2 linked regions of the Homo sapiens genome follow. The protein of the gene in region 1 interacts with the protein of each later gene in a pairwise test. Each region holds a gene or a part of one and is shown on either strand. Other genes may lie near its edges. The genes, in order: TMF1 and CMTM5.

The links.
Region 2: the proteins of TMF1 (region 1) and CMTM5 interact in binary tests that used the Homo sapiens proteins (3 or more experiments, as listed by UniProt).

The regions. Positions count from the first base shown.
Region 1 is NC_000003.12:69,042,124-69,049,986, reverse strand, and holds part of TMF1 (TATA element modulatory factor), read left to right. Parts: intron 1-951; exon of another isoform or gene 952-1,029; intron 1,030-1,424; coding exon 1,425-2,629; coding exon of another isoform or gene 2,630-2,638; intron 2,639-5,391; coding exon 5,392-5,495; intron 5,496-6,110; coding exon 6,111-6,237; intron 6,238-7,074; coding exon 7,075-7,180; intron 7,181-7,863. UniProt on the Homo sapiens protein: Potential coactivator of the androgen receptor. Mediates STAT3 degradation. May play critical roles in two RAB6-dependent retrograde transport processes: one from endosomes to the Golgi and the other from the Golgi to the ER.
Region 2 is NC_000014.9:23,371,483-23,380,337, reverse strand, and holds CMTM5 (CKLF-like MARVEL transmembrane domain-containing protein 5), read right to left. Parts: upstream 3,293-8,855; 5' UTR 3,087-3,292; coding exon 2,961-3,086; intron 1,990-2,960; coding exon 1,837-1,989; intron 1,670-1,836; coding exon 1,469-1,669; intron 1,308-1,468; coding exon 1,215-1,307; intron 1,040-1,214; coding exon 955-1,039; intron 865-954; coding exon 851-864; 3' UTR 566-850; downstream 1-565. Other genes in the region: IL25 (interleukin-25 isoform 1 precursor), read right to left, coding at 4,458-4,713, 6,942-7,219.

The sequences.
Region 1 (7,863 bases):
CGCCTGGCCTGAAGTCATATTAAAGGATAGATTCTACTATAAGGCTTGATAGTTTTTAGAAGCTTTTAGTTACTTGTGCTCTCTCCACCAACTTCTAATTGTGAATATTTTGTGAATATTTTGTTCAGCCACATTTTAATTTGAAAAAGAAAACATTTTTAAAGAAATGCTTTAAATACTTTAACGAATATACCATTTTTAAGATCCTGATTATGCCATTTTTAAAAATCAGGATTTTAGTAGTAGCTATTTGTATGACTGATATGATAATTAACTTTTTCCCCAAGAAAACAGTCATTTTCTTTGTAGCGCTTTTTTAAAAACCCTAGTGTCAACCACCTCTATGTCAAAGAGCAATAGTTCTTAAAAAAACACACATTTCTGAAATTTATAATGACCTTGTAATTTCTGACATAATTTAGAATTTGAGAACAAAACTTCCTCTTAGAGTGGGCTTGGAGAGTGGGATTTAGAGAATCAGCCTGTGATTAAGTGGATGAAAATGAATTTGTTCTCTAGAACTTACCATTCCCATCAGTTTAATATGATCTTCGGGAAAGAACATTTGTCACCATTATCTTGGTTTGAGGCTTTTGTTGTTTTGTTTGTTTTCGAGACAGGTTCTCGATCTGTCACCCAGGCTGAAGTGCAGTGGTTTGATCATGGCTCACTGCAGCTTCCACCTCCTGGGCTCAGATGATCTTCCCACCTCAGCCTCCTGAGTAGCTGGGACCACATATGTGGGCCACCAGGCCCAGCTAATTAAAAAAATTTTTTTGTAGGGACAGGGGTCTCACTATGTTGCCCAGGCTTGTCTTGAACTCCTGGACTCAAATGACTCTTCTAGTGTTGGGATTATAGGTGTGAACCTCCATACCCACTGAGTTCAGTTTTTGAGTGTTGCCCTTTGTCTAGCTCATAACTATATTACTGATATTACAAGTAAAAATTAATATGAAACTGACTGAATAGGTAGGGTCATTTTTCTGTGACTGCACATGGCCCAACCTATTCAGTTAGTTCCATATTAGTTTATTTCATATTGATAAGTAAAGCGTGTTATTATGAGATGAATCATAGGTATCTTGGACTTACTGTGGGTTATAAAACATATACTGTTACTTCCTTAATTTGTTGTGGGGAGGAATAACATACTCGCATCTGGTAGTCCAGGCCAGGCCCAGTCTTTTGTCTGTGCTCCTCCTTCCTCTCAGGTGGACCCACACCAGTTTTCTTCCGTAAGTCCCTGTATTAACTTGGAAACTACTTAATGATGTAGTAAGCAAGGAGTTTAGCAGGTGCAAATTACAGGTATTTCATAGGGTATTTTTTCTAAATTTATATTTATACTGATTTATAATGATGATTGAAATATTAATGTAACATATATGTGTTCTTTTTTAATATTTACTTTTTTGTTAAAGGAATAAGTTCCCCTGTCAGTGGAGGATGGGATACTTCAACCTGGGGGTTGAAATCAAACACTGAACCTCAGAGTCCACCAATAGCCTCTCCTAAAGCAATCACAAAGCCAGTTCGGAGGACTGTGGTCGATGAATCTGAAAATTTCTTCAGTGCCTTTCTCTCGCCAACTGATGTCCAGACCATTCAGAAGAGTCCAGTGGTATCAAAACCTCCAGCAAAATCACAACGACCAGAAGAAGAAGTGAAAAGCAGCTTACATGAATCCTTGCACATTGGCCAGTCAAGAACTCCTGAAACAACTGAATCACAAGTAAAAGACTCTTCTTTGTGTGTTTCAGGGGAAACTCTGGCAGCAGGTACTTCATCACCTAAAACTGAAGGCAAGCACGAAGAAACTGTTAATAAAGAATCGGATATGAAGGTGCCAACTGTAAGTTTGAAAGTATCTGAAAGTGTAATTGATGTGAAAACAACTATGGAAAGTATATCTAATACGTCTACGCAGTCTCTCACAGCAGAAACAAAGGACATAGCTTTGGAACCTAAGGAACAAAAACATGAAGACAGGCAGAGCAATACACCTTCTCCTCCTGTTAGTACCTTTTCATCAGGTACTTCTACCACCAGTGATATTGAAGTTTTAGATCATGAAAGTGTAATAAGTGAGAGCTCAGCGAGCTCGAGACAAGAGACTACAGATTCAAAATCAAGTCTTCACTTGATGCAGACATCTTTTCAGCTTCTCTCTGCATCTGCTTGTCCTGAATATAATCGTTTAGATGATTTCCAAAAACTCACTGAGAGTTGCTGTTCATCTGATGCTTTTGAAAGAATAGACTCATTTAGTGTACAGTCATTAGATAGCCGGAGTGTAAGTGAAATCAATTCAGATGATGAATTGTCAGGCAAGGGATATGCTTTAGTGCCTATTATAGTTAATTCTTCAACTCCAAAGTCTAAAACAGTTGAATCTGCTGAAGGAAAATCTGAAGAAGTAAATGAAACATTAGTTATACCCACTGAGGAAGCAGAAATGGAAGAAAGTGGACGAAGTGCAACTCCTGTTAACTGTGAACAGCCTGATATCTTGGTTTCTTCCACACCAATAAATGAAGGACAGACTGTGTTAGACAAGGTGGCTGAGCAGTGTGAACCTGCTGAAAGTCAGCCAGAAGCACTTTCTGAGAAGGAAGATGTTTGCAAGGTAACTCTAGTAAGTGGAAGGGATTTTTAGATGTGCTTTTTGGAGATTAAATCATTTGTTTTAAAAAATACTTTCATTGATGCATAATAATTTATACAGATTTAAAAACATACGCATTTTGCCATTTCTGTGTAGCATTAAGTACCTTGAAGTTGAACAATTATTAATATAATTTGGAATTTCTCCAAGGCAATTATGGTAGAATAAGTTGATACTTCAATACAGTTAAGCATGAAAGTTTTCATCTTACATCTTTATTTTTGAGTCCTTATCACTTCAAAATTCTGTTATGCTTATTAGTATGTCAATTTGAAAGGAATATTTTCTTACATTAACATGTATCTTCACCTCCTTTGCAGATAGATGTGCCAAAAAAACTAAATGTTATGGTTTTTCTTGTATCAGAATTTGTTTTTACATGTTTACATTATTTGTAGCAAATATTAAATGATAATTTAAGATTTTAATTATTGGTGCTTTTCTGTTATTAGTATTTTCATTCATATATAAGGAGTATATATCCTTATATTGCTTCAGTTTGTTTTCTGCTTATGTTATTTTTGAGATCTCCTATTGATAGCTATATTTCACATGAACGAGAAAGAGAAATGTCTAAGGAACAAAAGCATTGCTTAGGAGGGACAGATTGCTTCTACCTAATACATGTGAAAGGAAAGTGATATAAATTCTTTGACATTAAGTCCTAGTTTTGGTTTTTACTGTGACTTTTAGATATACAAATTTAGTTGGATCTGGTATCTTTAATAGACTTCTGAGATGTAGGATGTCTTGAAGAAATGTCCTGTAAGTGCCATGTATTGAATTACTTAATTTTTTAAAAAAGTGCCAGATTCTGTTAATCAGGTTAAATATTCACAAACAAAATGCTGTGCAATAATATTTCAATTAGTAATAGCTATATACTGTAAGATATATAATAGGAGTTTGAATTCTTAGAAACCAGCACTAATTACTATCAGATATTTTTGAATTTCAGTGTATTTAAGAAGGTAAGTGATTTCTAAGTTCATCTAAACCAAACTCAGGTAAGACTATTTTTTTGAGTCCAAAAAGGAACCCTTCCTACTCCTTTTATACTCAAGTTTATCACCATTTGAGTAGGACCTAAGGAATTAGACATTCCAAGCATTACTTTTTGTTTAGCTTTATACTGATACATTATGGAGATTTAAAAATTCTTATGGGTTTTCTAAAATTACTTTTAGTGTGGATGGATGTATGTATGAATGAGACAGGGTCTCTCTCTATTGTCCAGGCTAGCGTGCAGTGGTGCGATCGCGGCTCACAGGGTCTCTCTTTGTTGCTCAGGCTGGTGTGCAGTGGTGCGATCATGGCTCACGGCAGCCTTGACCTCCTGGGCTCAAGCAGTCCTCCCACCTAATCCGCTCTAGTAGCTGGGACCATAGGCTCGCACCACGCCTGGCTATTTTTTTGATTTTTAGTAGAGATGAGGTCTCACTATGCTGCCAGGCTGGTCTTGAACTCCTGGGCTCAAGCGGTCTTCCCATCTTGGCCTCCCACAGTGCTGGGATTATAAGCATGAACCCGTGTCCAGCCCTACTTTTATTTTATTTTATTTATTTATTTTTTGAGGCGGAGTCTTGCCCTGTTGCCCAGGCTAGTCTGCCTCCCAGGTTCAAGTGATTCTTCTGCCTCAGCCTCCCAAGTAGCTGGGACTACAGACGTATGCTACCATGCCTGGCTAATTTTTGTATTTTTTGTAGAGATGGGGTTTCACCGTGTTGGTCAGGCTGGTCTTGAACTCCTGACCTCAAGTGATCTGCCCTCCTCAGCCTACCAAAGTGCTGGGATTACAGGCATGAGCCACCATGCCCGGCCTCTACTTTTATTTATTTATTTATTTTTACTTTTTGAGATGGAGTTTCACTCTTGTCACCCAGGCTGGAGTGCAAGATCATTGCAGAATCTTGGCTCACTGCAACCTCCACCTCCTGGGTTCAAGCGATTCTCCAGCCTCAGCCTCCTGAGTAGCTGGGATTACAGGTGCCTGCCACCATGCCCAGCTAATTTTTGTATTTTCAGTAGAGACTGGTTTTCACCGTGTTGGCCAGGCTGCTCTCAAATTCCTGACCTCAGGTGATCCCCCCACCTCAGCCTCCCAAAGTGCTGGGATTACAGGCATGAGCCACTGCGCCTGGCCTACTTTTATTTTTTAAATGCAATATGTCATATTTTAAAAAGGGTATGTGTTTCGGGTAAAGAATAATACAGAAAATAGACACTTGTGTATCCACCACCTAGCTAAAATATAGAGGCTTTAAATTTCCTCTTTGACCTCTTTTGATTGCATCCATCTCCCTTCTTCTTTTGGTGTGTATGCAGATTATTCCAGATTTTTGCTATTACCAGGAAGCTACATAAAGTATTCTTATACATGTCGCCTAGTGCATTTATGCAAGAATTTTCTCCTCTAAGGTATACCTAAAAGTGAAATTTTCTATATCAAAGAGTATGTAGATCCCCAACTAGATATTGCCTAATTGTTTTCTCAAGGGGTTTCTCAACTTACACTCCCACTAGCTATTTGGTTGTATTTACTTTTACTCTCCTCTCAGCTGCCTAAGAGTTCTTCTTGTTCTGGATCTTCTGTGTTCCTAATACTGTTCTTGATTGTTTTTATGAGATAAAGCTGTTTTCTTTGTTACAGTGATACACCTGCATGTAAAAATGGTCTTTTTTAAAGCTAAGCGTTCTGACTTTTATGTATTCGCCTTATCCAGACAGTTGAATTTCTGAATGAAAAGCTGGAAAAAAGGGAGGCTCAGTTATTATCTCTTAGTAAGGAAAAAGCACTTCTAGAAGAAGCTTTTGATAACCTGAAAGAGTAAGTATTCTGCAAATGTGAATAATGTTACACATTTTCTGGAAACCTGTATACTTTGTACATATTTAAGAATGTTTTTGAAATTAAAATGTTTTGTAATTTTATCATTATTGAAAGTTGTATAGCTTTCAATTATAACCCTAAAGATTACTTTTCTCTTTTGATTGTCTTTACCCTTTGCCATTGAAGAGAGTCATTTTGCAAAACTGGAAAACTCTTTCCTTTCGTTTTTAGTCTTTTAGTATTAGAGATTTAAAACGTATTTGAAGAAAACTGTGTTAATCAATAACACAGTTGTGCTATAAGGAGCTGATTGGGAAAATGTGATACAAGAAGATTCAGAATTGAAACATTGTATTTACTCTTCTCTTATTTTTACATGTCAGATATTGGTGACATTTTCTCTTTCTAACAGATTTTCTTTGAGGTGTTTTAAAATAAATTTAACAAGGGAAATTTCCTTTTTTTTTCTTAAAAGTTAATAGGCCTAAAACTGTTCTATTTTAATAAGGTATATGTCAGAGAAAAGTTATCTTCCTTTTGAGAATTGAACTCATGTATACCTTTGGGATATATAGACACCATCCTCATTCTCAAATATTATTTTAAATTTAGTGAAATGTTCAGAGTGAAAGAAGAAAGCAGTAGCATTTCTTCCTTGAAAGATGAGTTTACTCAAAGAATTGCAGAAGCAGAAAAGAAAGTTCAACTAGCCTGCAAAGAGAGAGATGCTGCTAAAAAGGTAATTGAAATTTAAAGTAATATTAATTAAACTCTATAGAGATATAGATTTTTGAGGAGTGCATTCATCGTATTTTGATATTGGAAAAAAGAGAAGTAAGGTGAAAAGGATATCATCTATTAACATTTAAATTGTAGATTTTTGGCCACGTGTGGTGGCTCATGTCTATAATCCCAGCACACTGGGAGGCTGAAGTGGGCGGATCACTTGAGCCCAGGAGTTAGAGAGCAGCCTGGGTAACATGGTGAGACCCTGCCTCTACTAAAAAATACATAAAGTTAGCTGGTCATGCTGGTGTGCGCCTGTGGTCACAGCTACTCAGGAGGCCGAAGAGGGTGGATCGCTTGAGCCCAGGAGTTCAAGACCAGCCTGGGCAACATGGCGAGACCTCATCTCTACAAAAAATACAAAGATTAGCTGGCCATGGTGGTACATGCGTGTGGTCCCAACTACTCGGGAAGCTGAGGTGGGAGGATCACCTGAGCCTGGGAGGTTGAGGCTGTGGTGAGTCGTCATTGTACCACTACTCCAGCCTGGGTGACAGAGTAAGACCCTGTCTCAAAAAATAAAAATAAAAATGAAAAGGAAAGTTAATTTATTCTCATTTATATTTTCATATTAACACTTGCTTGTATATCTGAATTTAGGTTTTGAATATCATTTTCAAAGTTGTTTTCTTAGTCTTAGTTAACCAAGGTAGTAGATTAACTGAACAAAACTTACAGATTCTTATTGCAAATGTGATTATGGACAGCTTCTTTGGATGGGGGAGAAATGAGAACTGTACTTAGAGTGAAAGTCATTCTTTACGGTATTCACAGATTTCTTTTTTATTAGGAAATCAAAAACATAAAAGAAGAACTTGCCACTAGATTAAATAGTAGTGAAACTGCAGACCTTTTGAAAGAGAAAGATGAGCAGATCCGAGGGTTAATGGAAGAAGGTGCGTATAGTATTTGGTTGACTATGAAAAATACTGTAAGAACAGGAAAAGTACTTGCCACATAACTAGCTGATGCTTCCTAATTAAAAATACTGAAAGCAAGGAGGGTTTGGACGTAAACCATAGAAATAGGTGACAGTTTATGGAAGAATGAGGAATAAGATATATTGAGACAGAGATACGTGTTTCTAGCTTTTGTTTTTTGGAAGTAAAAAGAAAAGTAAGTCCCTGTAAAATAGACAGAAATTTGTGCTGCCCTAAGAAAACTTTAAACAGGTCTTAAGAGCCTGTCATTTAAACCAAGACATTCAAAGTGTGTAACTCTGGGATTTATGTAATATCTGAATACCTAGCTTAAGTACTGTATGATATTGTCTTTTTCTGACATTTGATAGTGAATTTTTCATTGTATTAATTTTTAAATTATTAAGCACTTTTGTCTCTGAAAAGATTTAAAATAAACAGGGTTGGCTGAGTGTGGTGGCTTATGACTGTAATCTCAGCACTTGGGGAGGCAGAGGTGGGTGGATCATTTAAGGTCAGGAGTTCGAGACAAGCCTGGCCAACATGGTGAAACCCCGTCTCTACTAAAAATACAAAAATTAGCCGGGTGGTGGTGGTGCGTGCCTCTAATCCCAGCTACTCAGGAGGCTGAGGCAGGAGGATTGCTTGAGCCTGGGAGG
Region 2 (8,855 bases), on another chromosome or scaffold:
GTGTCAGAAGAGCTGCGTTCTGGCCCTAGCTCTGTCACAAATGAGTTCACCTCCCCTGGCTGGGCCTGTTTTCTCTTATGTGAAATGAGGGCATTGGACCAGCTGATAATCAACGGCTCTCCCAGCATTCGCATTTTGGGAAATCTCTCCCTCCTCTGATACCTCAGGCTGCCCTCTCCCTGCGTCCTGTGGGCCAAGTCTTCCCCACACCACAAGGGGGAGCTCTGCACACGCCCCAGGCGAGCGCCTGGCCTCCAGCCCACTAACCTGCGGGAACAGGTGTGGTGGTGCATGCATGCTCCCATGAGGAAGGCTGTGCCTTCTCAGACACAGAACTCCAGATGCCCAGCCACCAGGCACACCACAAAGTGGCCGTGCACACAGAGGTGTAGCGTAGAAGTTTTGTGTTGGAGGATGTCTTCAGCTTCTTCTGGCTAGCCCCCACATCCTCACTGCTCAGACCCAGTCCCAGAGACAGACCACGACCTGCTCTGGCAACATTCCCATGAATACTCCTTGACATTCCTGACCTGCCTAATTTCTGGGGAAGAAAGAGACTCACCAGTAGAATTTGAATATTTTAATTTGGGAATGACTTAGAGGTCCAGATTCCTCCCCTCCACCCCCCCTCCCCCAATAAGTTCCCCTCCTCTGGCCAGAGCTTCATGAGAAGCCACATCCTGGAGCACCAGGCTCCACAGATAAGTCCCCAGTGACGTCTCAGGCCAGACTGCTGTGTAGGGCTGGGGTGGGGTTTGGCGGGCTGGGGGCTAGTGAATCCCAAGGAGACGTGTCTGGGCTCCACTGTCCTCTCTGGCTGGCTGGGCCTAGGAGCCAGGTAGCCCCAGAGTCACTGCTGGTCCCCTGTGAGGATAGAGCCAGGTAGGGACCCACATCAGGATGGGTAGCTAGGGTGGGGAGGGCATCTCCTCTCCACAGAGCACAGGCACTCACCCTGGCTGGCCCCGGGTGCCATCTCAGTCCGGTAGATCTTGAAGGCATCATAGGCAAAGATGGAAACCAGGATGATGCCAAAAACCTGTGGGAGTGGGAGTGGGGATGGCAAAACAGAGGCTATAGGGCCATTGGGTTAAGGTATAGGGTGAGGTGCAAGCCAGAACCCCAAGTCCTGGCTGTGGCTTCTGATACAGAAAGTGTGCAAGCACCAGCCTGAGCTCTTGAGGGGCTAAGGAGTCCTGCAGGGCTGAACTCACAAAAGCAGCAATGGCAGCTCCGTCCCGGGAGGTCACAGCTGCAAAGGAGACCACCAGGAAGATGATGATGGCACTGACACAGCGCAGGAAGTCCTGGGGGCCAGGGGTGCAGGGTTAACAGGACCTCAGAAGGCAGGGGGCGTTACCCTGAAGTTTTCCAGGCTAGCCAGCAGCCCGACCCTGAGGGATTCTGAACCCCTCCATAGGATACCCCTCACACAATATGAAGCACATTCAAGAGACAGAGCGCTCACACTGCTACCCAGGGAGTGGAAGCAGATGAACCAGAGCAACCAGGACCAGAAGCCAGGCGCTGGGGCTGGAACCCAGGGGACAGCGGCTGGAGTATGCCAGCCCGGGGGGGTCAAGCCAGGCCAGGGCTGGGGCTGGACCTTTGCTGAGTGGGAGAGTAGATCTAGCGGATGTGGTCCTCCTGATTGCCCGTGGCCCTGCAGCTGTGAAATCAGTGTGAGTCAAAGCACACCTTTGAGTGCAGGGCATAGCATGGGACAAAGCCCAGCTGTGGTGTGGAAATGGAAAGAAGCTCGGGGAGGAAAGGAAAATGCATCATTTAGAGGAGAGGGAAGGGCCCCAAACTGGGCTAGGGGTCAGGGTTCCTCACCAGACAGGGCCAGTTAATTCGGTCGAAGCGCTGGTAGTACTGGGTGGCATAGAGGAAGAGGAAGGCAAGTGTGATGAAGAACTCCAGTAGCGCCGCGGCCATGTAGGCAGAGATGGAGGCCGTGAAGCAGATGAAGATGATGAGGGTCAGGGCCTGCAGGACCGAGCATGTGGAACATGCCAAGAAGGGGACACAGGCAGGGGCCAGGGCTTTGCCTTCCCCTCCTTGGAAGCTCCCCTAGGCTGGCACCTACTACCTGTCCTTGGAGGGGAGGAAGGACTCTGGCACATCTCCCTATCCCCTGGTGTCAGGAGCCACCGTTGCAGGGCATTTGCCGGTCAAGGGCAGTCTCCGGCCTCCCACTCTGCTCACCCAGCAACCCCAGCAGTCTGGCCAAGCCATATGGCTCCCAGGAGCACTATCCCACAGTAATTCATAGGTACAGTGTGAATGCCAGCCCCTGGAGTTGTGCCCACAGAGACCCGACTCCACAGGGACCAAGAGGAGCCCCCTGCCTCATAATGCTTTCCCCACCCCCAGATGCCTGAAAGCCCCCTGACAAGGACCAGAGCCTTTGATTCCATGCCAAGAGAGAAGGCAGATGCTGCCCAGTGGTTTCTGGGAGCCCCTTTAGCTCTGATGACCTAGGGTGGCATACGTGCAGAGGCCTTAACTCTACACTGTGGTCTTGCTAAGTAACCAGGGGAAGATCCTTTCCTGAGAAGAGATGTTTCTGGGCAGCAGACCACAGATAAAGTGCAGTTGCAGGAAGTCTGCCCTTTTTGATAGTTAGACTTCTTGGACGTGCTGAGAAGTGGCCATGTTAGAGGCTGTCATTGCCCCTGTCCCATCCCTATGTCTCAAGCTTCCTCAATGTCCCAAAAAGTCACCCTGTCTAACTGCAGTCCTTCCTGCTGCAACTGAAACCTGCTGTAAATGTCTCCGGGTGGAGAGGCAGCAAGAAGGCAGAGTAGGAGACGAAGAAGGGGCAGCTGCGGGCAGGAGAGGTGTCCAGAGGGCTTGGGGAAGGAGGCTACTGAAGGGTGAGCTGGGGGCTGGCATAAGGCTGGCCAGGAGCCGGGGGTCAGGGAGATGGAGGCACCAGGTTGGGAGGCAGCTGTTACCAGCTCGGTTTCCAGCAGGATGCCCTTGTGGGAGGTGAGGAAGGCCTTGTCCACCGCGAAGCCCTGGAGCTCTGCAACTACCCCCTCCTCAGGGTGCCGGTCCCGGCGATCTCGAGCACTGAGCATCTTCGTAGGGCCCACCAACACAGCCCCCTACTGCCAAAAGCCCAGCAAGAGAAACAGAAATCTGGCAGGATGGGGAAACAGACAGGAGCAAGAAGGCACTTCGAGAAACCTGAAAGTGAAGCAGGAGGCTTGCCCACAGGGCCCCGGGAGAGAAGGCAGGCGCTGGGGGCCTTGCCCAGATGGGCCCTCACCCAGCTGCCCAGAGTGCCTCTGCTGCTGCCTGCACCAGCCCCCTAGAGACCCATGGGGAGGGGCAGAGAGGAAGGAGGCTCTAATCCCTCCCCTTGCTTAGAGCCCAACCCAGCCTGGAATAGAGAAGGAAGGGGAGAGGAGGAGGTCCGAAAAGAAACTGGGAGGAGCTGGGATGTGAGTAGAGGAACAGGGGCAGGACTGGGAGCCCCCAGGGACCTAAGCCTGAAGACATTTGTGTCCCCCTTCTCTAACCTTAACCCTCTTGTTTGGCCGGTCCTTTCTCCCATTTCCTTTTAGGGAGGGTGTGAGCTGGAGCCCAGCCCAGGCAGCACCCCCAGGACCAAGCTGCAGCAGCCAGGACTGGAGGACAAAGGCGGATTGTTGGGGGACAAGGGGGCGCTCTGTGCCTGCTGCAATGCCTCAATGGGCCTCTGTCTCTCCAGCATGCCGGGAGCGCGGCCTAGCCCCCACCCTGGTGTTTGGGATGGGCCAGGGAGACAGAGATGGGAGAGGACGGGAGGGTGCAGCGGAAACTCTGGAGGGCGGAGAGAGCTGGCAGGGTGGACAGAGGTGAGGGCCAATGGTGGAAAGGAGAAGGGACAGGCTGGGAGACCGCGAGATGTTCAGGCACCACGGATGCCAAATACAGATTAGGCCATTTTTAAATAAAGATATTTATTTGGATAAATCTCTATACATTCAATAACAGCTTCCTCCTCAGAATCATCCATGTCAAAAGACTAGTAACTACACTAGAATGCACCCAAAGTAGATGCTCACTGAGTGATGAGTAAACAAACAAATAAAACCAGGGGCTCTTTCTTCTCCAGCAAGGGGGAAATATCTAGAAAGTGCCTGTGCTGGGCCAGGGTAGCAGGGGATGGGAAAAGAGGAAGAGACAGGAGTGGTGGCCTCCAGAAATGGGCAGAACTTTGAAAACCTTTCCTGAGAGAAAATGACAGGACACCAGCTTCCGGCGGCCCTAAGCAGCAGCTGCTCTTTTCAAAATGTGCAGAAGTGCAGGCTTTCCCCAAAGCCCCCCATCCTGTCCCGGGATCCTGCTGCTCCAGACAGCACTTCACAGGGGCCAAGCATCTGGGCATCCTGGCCCTTCATGGCAAGTGGTTGTACACCTGGCTCCAGGTTTCCCAAAAAGGGACCAGCCTCCAGCAGGTCCGGCTAGCCCATCACACGGGGCCGCACACACACACAAGCTAAGGAAACACGGTACAGCCTGCGCTCCAGGCAGTAGCCCTTGTGGGTGCCCTTCTCGCCATGGCATGGCCGCCGGTAGAAGACAGTCTGGTTGTGGTAGAGCAGCTCCGAGTTGCCCCGGGGGTCCATGTGGGAGCCTGTCTGTAGGCTGACGCAGTGCGGGCACAGGCAACGGGCGTGGTACAGGTCCTGGGGGAGCCGGTTCAAGTCTCTGTCCAACCTGTGGGGGCGGCACTTGTCAGGCCTTGGAAAGATGGGCCGGAAACAGAGAGGGTGGGGTGGCATGGGAGTGCCAGAAGAAGGAAATGGTCCGTCTGGGGCCTTGGCCTCTTGTCTCAGTTCTGAACCCACTTGCTGTGTAACTTTGAACAAGTCACCTCCCTCCTTTATTAAATTTTCCCCACTGTAAATGAGGGTAGCAGGTGACAGAGTGCTTTCCAACTGGTCCTGGGACCGTGAGGGAGGCAGGGGAGGGTGAGCAGGCTCCTGCCTTAGCCTCCATTGACCAGCACTGCTTCTATCTGACTCAGCATGAGGTTTCTTATTGTAATGATTACACTTTAGGTGTTTTTGTTTGTTTTTTGATTTTTTGTTTTTGTTTTTTTGAGACGGAGTACCCAAGCTGGAGTGCAGTGGCACGATCTTGGCTCAACTGCAACCTCTACCTCCTGGGTTCGAGCGATTCTCCTGATGCCCGCCACCATACCCAGCTAATTTTCATATTTTTAGTAGAGATGGGGTTTCATGATGTTGGCCATGGTTGGCCAGGCTGGTCTTGAACTCCTGACCTTAGGTAATCCACCCACCTCGACCTCCCAAAGTGCTGGGATTACAGGCATGAGCCACCGGGCCGGACTTTAGGTGGTGTTTCTATTATTATTATAGCATTATTGCAAAAGTAAAAACCACTCTGACATCCAAGTATTAAAGAGTATAAAGAGTGAAAGTTAATAGTCTCTCCCTACCAGCCCCACTCCCCAGAAGAAGCTATCCTCAACTATTTCCTGCACATTCTTCCAGACGCTGTGCAAGCTTATATTATAAGCATACTTGAGAGTGCATGGGAAGACTTATTTACTTATTCTGAAAGGATTTCATGGCAAAAAAAAAAAAAGAAAGAAAGAAAGAAAGATGAAAAACACTGAAAAGTAGATGTCCCACAGGTCTGCGACTCCATTAGTCTGGCAGGCGACAGTCTCCAGCTTGTGGGACCATTCCCCACACAGACAAGCCCTGGCAAATGGAATTAGCTAGCACATCACTTCCCAAAGTGGGTTCCCTAATAAATCACCTGCACCTGTTGGGTGCTTAAATGAATTTGGGAAACACCAGTTTAACGGTTTACTTTCTACAGACTTCTTGCAGACTTTAATGTACAATGACAGTATGAATCTCCAAGGGGTAGGAGATACAGCAGTCTTTCCCAAGTTTACCTGGCATCACTTTTTTCTGAGAAGCAGCTCATGGGATGAGCATTGCACAGAACACACTTTGGGGAAAGCCACCTGAGTGGTTCTCGGGTTCACAGACTCCCAGCAAGGGGTCTGGAAGACAGCTGAGTTAACCTCTGGCACCCGCCTCCCCTAAGAAGCTCCCATGCCATCTGATTTGGCCCAGGACCCAGCCAGCTTCTGAGACCACTCCAAAGAGTCATGACCTGTAGTGTCCACACTAGATCCAATCTCAGTTAGATCTGACCCCCTCCCCACCACTGAACTTCTCCATCTACCCCCAAAGCCAATGCTAAGACAGAACTAGAAGGAAGAAGTGAAATCACATGTCTGGAATCCCTAAGACCCTAGTTTTTAATATTTTGCTTCATCATTCATATTTCAGCACTTCCTAATATTTTTCATATCATGGCACAAATAGAGAACTATAATATTTATGTGGCACACTGAGTGAAAGAATACAGTACCCATGATCATGATCAAAGATATCCAGTCCACAGCTCCAGCCAGCCAGCTGCCCCCAAAAGTTAAGGGTTTCACTCCTTTAGTATGCTTATAACTAACCCATTCATGGCCAGGGCAGTATCAATTGGTATTGGGATGCTTCATGCCTGTATCATGCCATTATTCCCTAATATTTTACCCAGAAAAAACATGGGCCATTATAGGGATGTTTTAAAAGAAAAGGAGAGAACCAACATAAATACAGACTTTTACATACATTATATTTCATTTGATCTGCACATTAGCCTATGGGGCATTATATCATTTTGCAGGTGAAAAAAAAAAAAACCCTGAGTTTTGAAAACTTGAATTGACTCAAGATCATCCAATGAGAGTCAGAGCTAGGACTCAAATACAGACCTTGTCTAACTCCCAAACCTTTACAGCCCCTCTGAGATCAAAATGGGAAAGTAAGCTGGAATTGCCCTGGTCCCTCACGCATACCCTGGCCAGCACACACAGGGCAGGCATTCGGGAGGGGCAGCAGACTCACTCATATCTCCAGGGGGAGATGGCCCTGCTGTTGAGGGGTCCATCTTCACTGGCCCTACAGGACTCTGGGTGGCGGTTGGGCCTAGCAGGCTCTAGGGGAGGCACAGGCACAGTGCTCCACCTCAGCAGCTCCTCAGAGGTGTCCTGCCCTTTGCTGGGGCAGCAGCTGGGCCAGTGGCTGTAGGTGTGGGTTCCCATGACCATTGCCAAGAATGCAACCACCTGTAGGAAAAGGCTAATGAGAGAACTGTCCTCACCTAATCTGGGTCGCTCCCTCATCTGCACCCTCCCCCTGGGATCCCAGTTTCTCACTCCACTTGGCCCCCAGCCCCAAACCTGGCAGCTTGGCCTCCCTCCACCCTCAGCAGCATCTCTGCTCCTCTCCCTCTCAGCACAGCCCTCAGGCAGCCCTCTGCACTGACCTGGTACATGCTGGGCACTGCACACTCAGTCACAAGTGGGGCACTGACTGACAGGCCTCGTGGAAGCAGGCTGACTGGAGCAGGTTAGGAGTCCTGATTTTATTTTCAGCAAGCCTGTTTTGTTTATTCAAATTTATTTCCACTGTCTTTTTAGGGAGTGACTTGAGGTTAAAAAACAAAACCAAAAAAACTCTGAAAGTATTTCCAAAGGCTGCTTAAAATGCAATACTCATGGAAGTTGTGATGACCATCATTATATGCCTGGTAGCTGATTGGGTAAACTTTGCTCTTTGAATTTTTCTGGCCATGGGGTCAAAGCAATAACAGTCTGCTGTTCTGCATTCTTGTGAACTGGCATTAGCGGGATTTCCCTGGTTGGTTTGGTAGCCAAAATTAGGAAATGTCTTGTGGCCTCCCTTCAAGAGGCCTCGTTTCCATGATCCCTGCTCCCCCCATCCAGGGTCTGGTTTCACCATTCCCCTCTTCCCAGGTGTCCCTCTGATCATCCACCTTCGTGATTATTTCCTTTCCCTTAGACATCCTTTGACTCCCATCCCCTTTGTTCTCTGACCTCTTCCACATTTTCAATGACCCCAAAATTCTATGACCCCCATCAGCTATGACTTCTCCCCCATTGTCCATGACCCACTCCCTAACTCCCCCTTGCCCTCGCCAGTCACTGCCCCCCACCGGGGATACAAGCCTACCCTCACAGGGCTGCTGGAAGACCCTGACTTCCTAAGTTTGTTGGCTGGATGGGCAAGGTCTGATGGAAGAAGCTGTGGGTGAGTGTCCCCATTGCACAAATGAGAAGGTGAAGCAAGGAAGAGGAGGGAAACTGAAACAGCCTCACCTAAGACCCAACAGGAAGGAGGTCTCAGTTCCAGGAACCAACCTGCTCTCATTCACAGAGCCTTGGGGACCAAGCCCATGACAGGGTCAGCTACTGCTTTCAGGCCATGAAGTGAGCCCACTCAGCCTCAGCAGGTCCAGAAACATGGGCCACTGTTAGCCAGGAGGGTGTATGTGTGCCCCAGAAAGGCTTACAGTTGGGCTTGACCCCAAAGACACAGGTCAGCCGGGTCCAGCCTGCTTGGGAGACACTGTGCTGAGAGTGGGCCAGTGTGTCCTTCCCCCCAGGTCCTTCTCTTCATGCTTGCCTATTGGCCTGCCTCATCCCCCATACGCACCCAACATACCCATACACAGACATTGCCCCTAGAATGATGTGGCTTGATTTGCATGTGCTTTCCCTTAGAAAATACTCCTCTAGTAACCAAGGACTAGGAAATCAACAAAGGGAACCAGGAATAACTTAAACTGCAGTGAGAGGAATCTTTCCAATGCGTTAGGGCAAAGCAGCCCCAAAAGAGAGAAGTGATGAAGTCAAAGGGCAATCTGGAAAATTGGGAGAAACTGCTCTGCTCTGATGAGTCTTGGGGCACCTGGAACTGTGGGATGGAGGGCACTTAGAAGAAGCAGGTGGTGGCTGG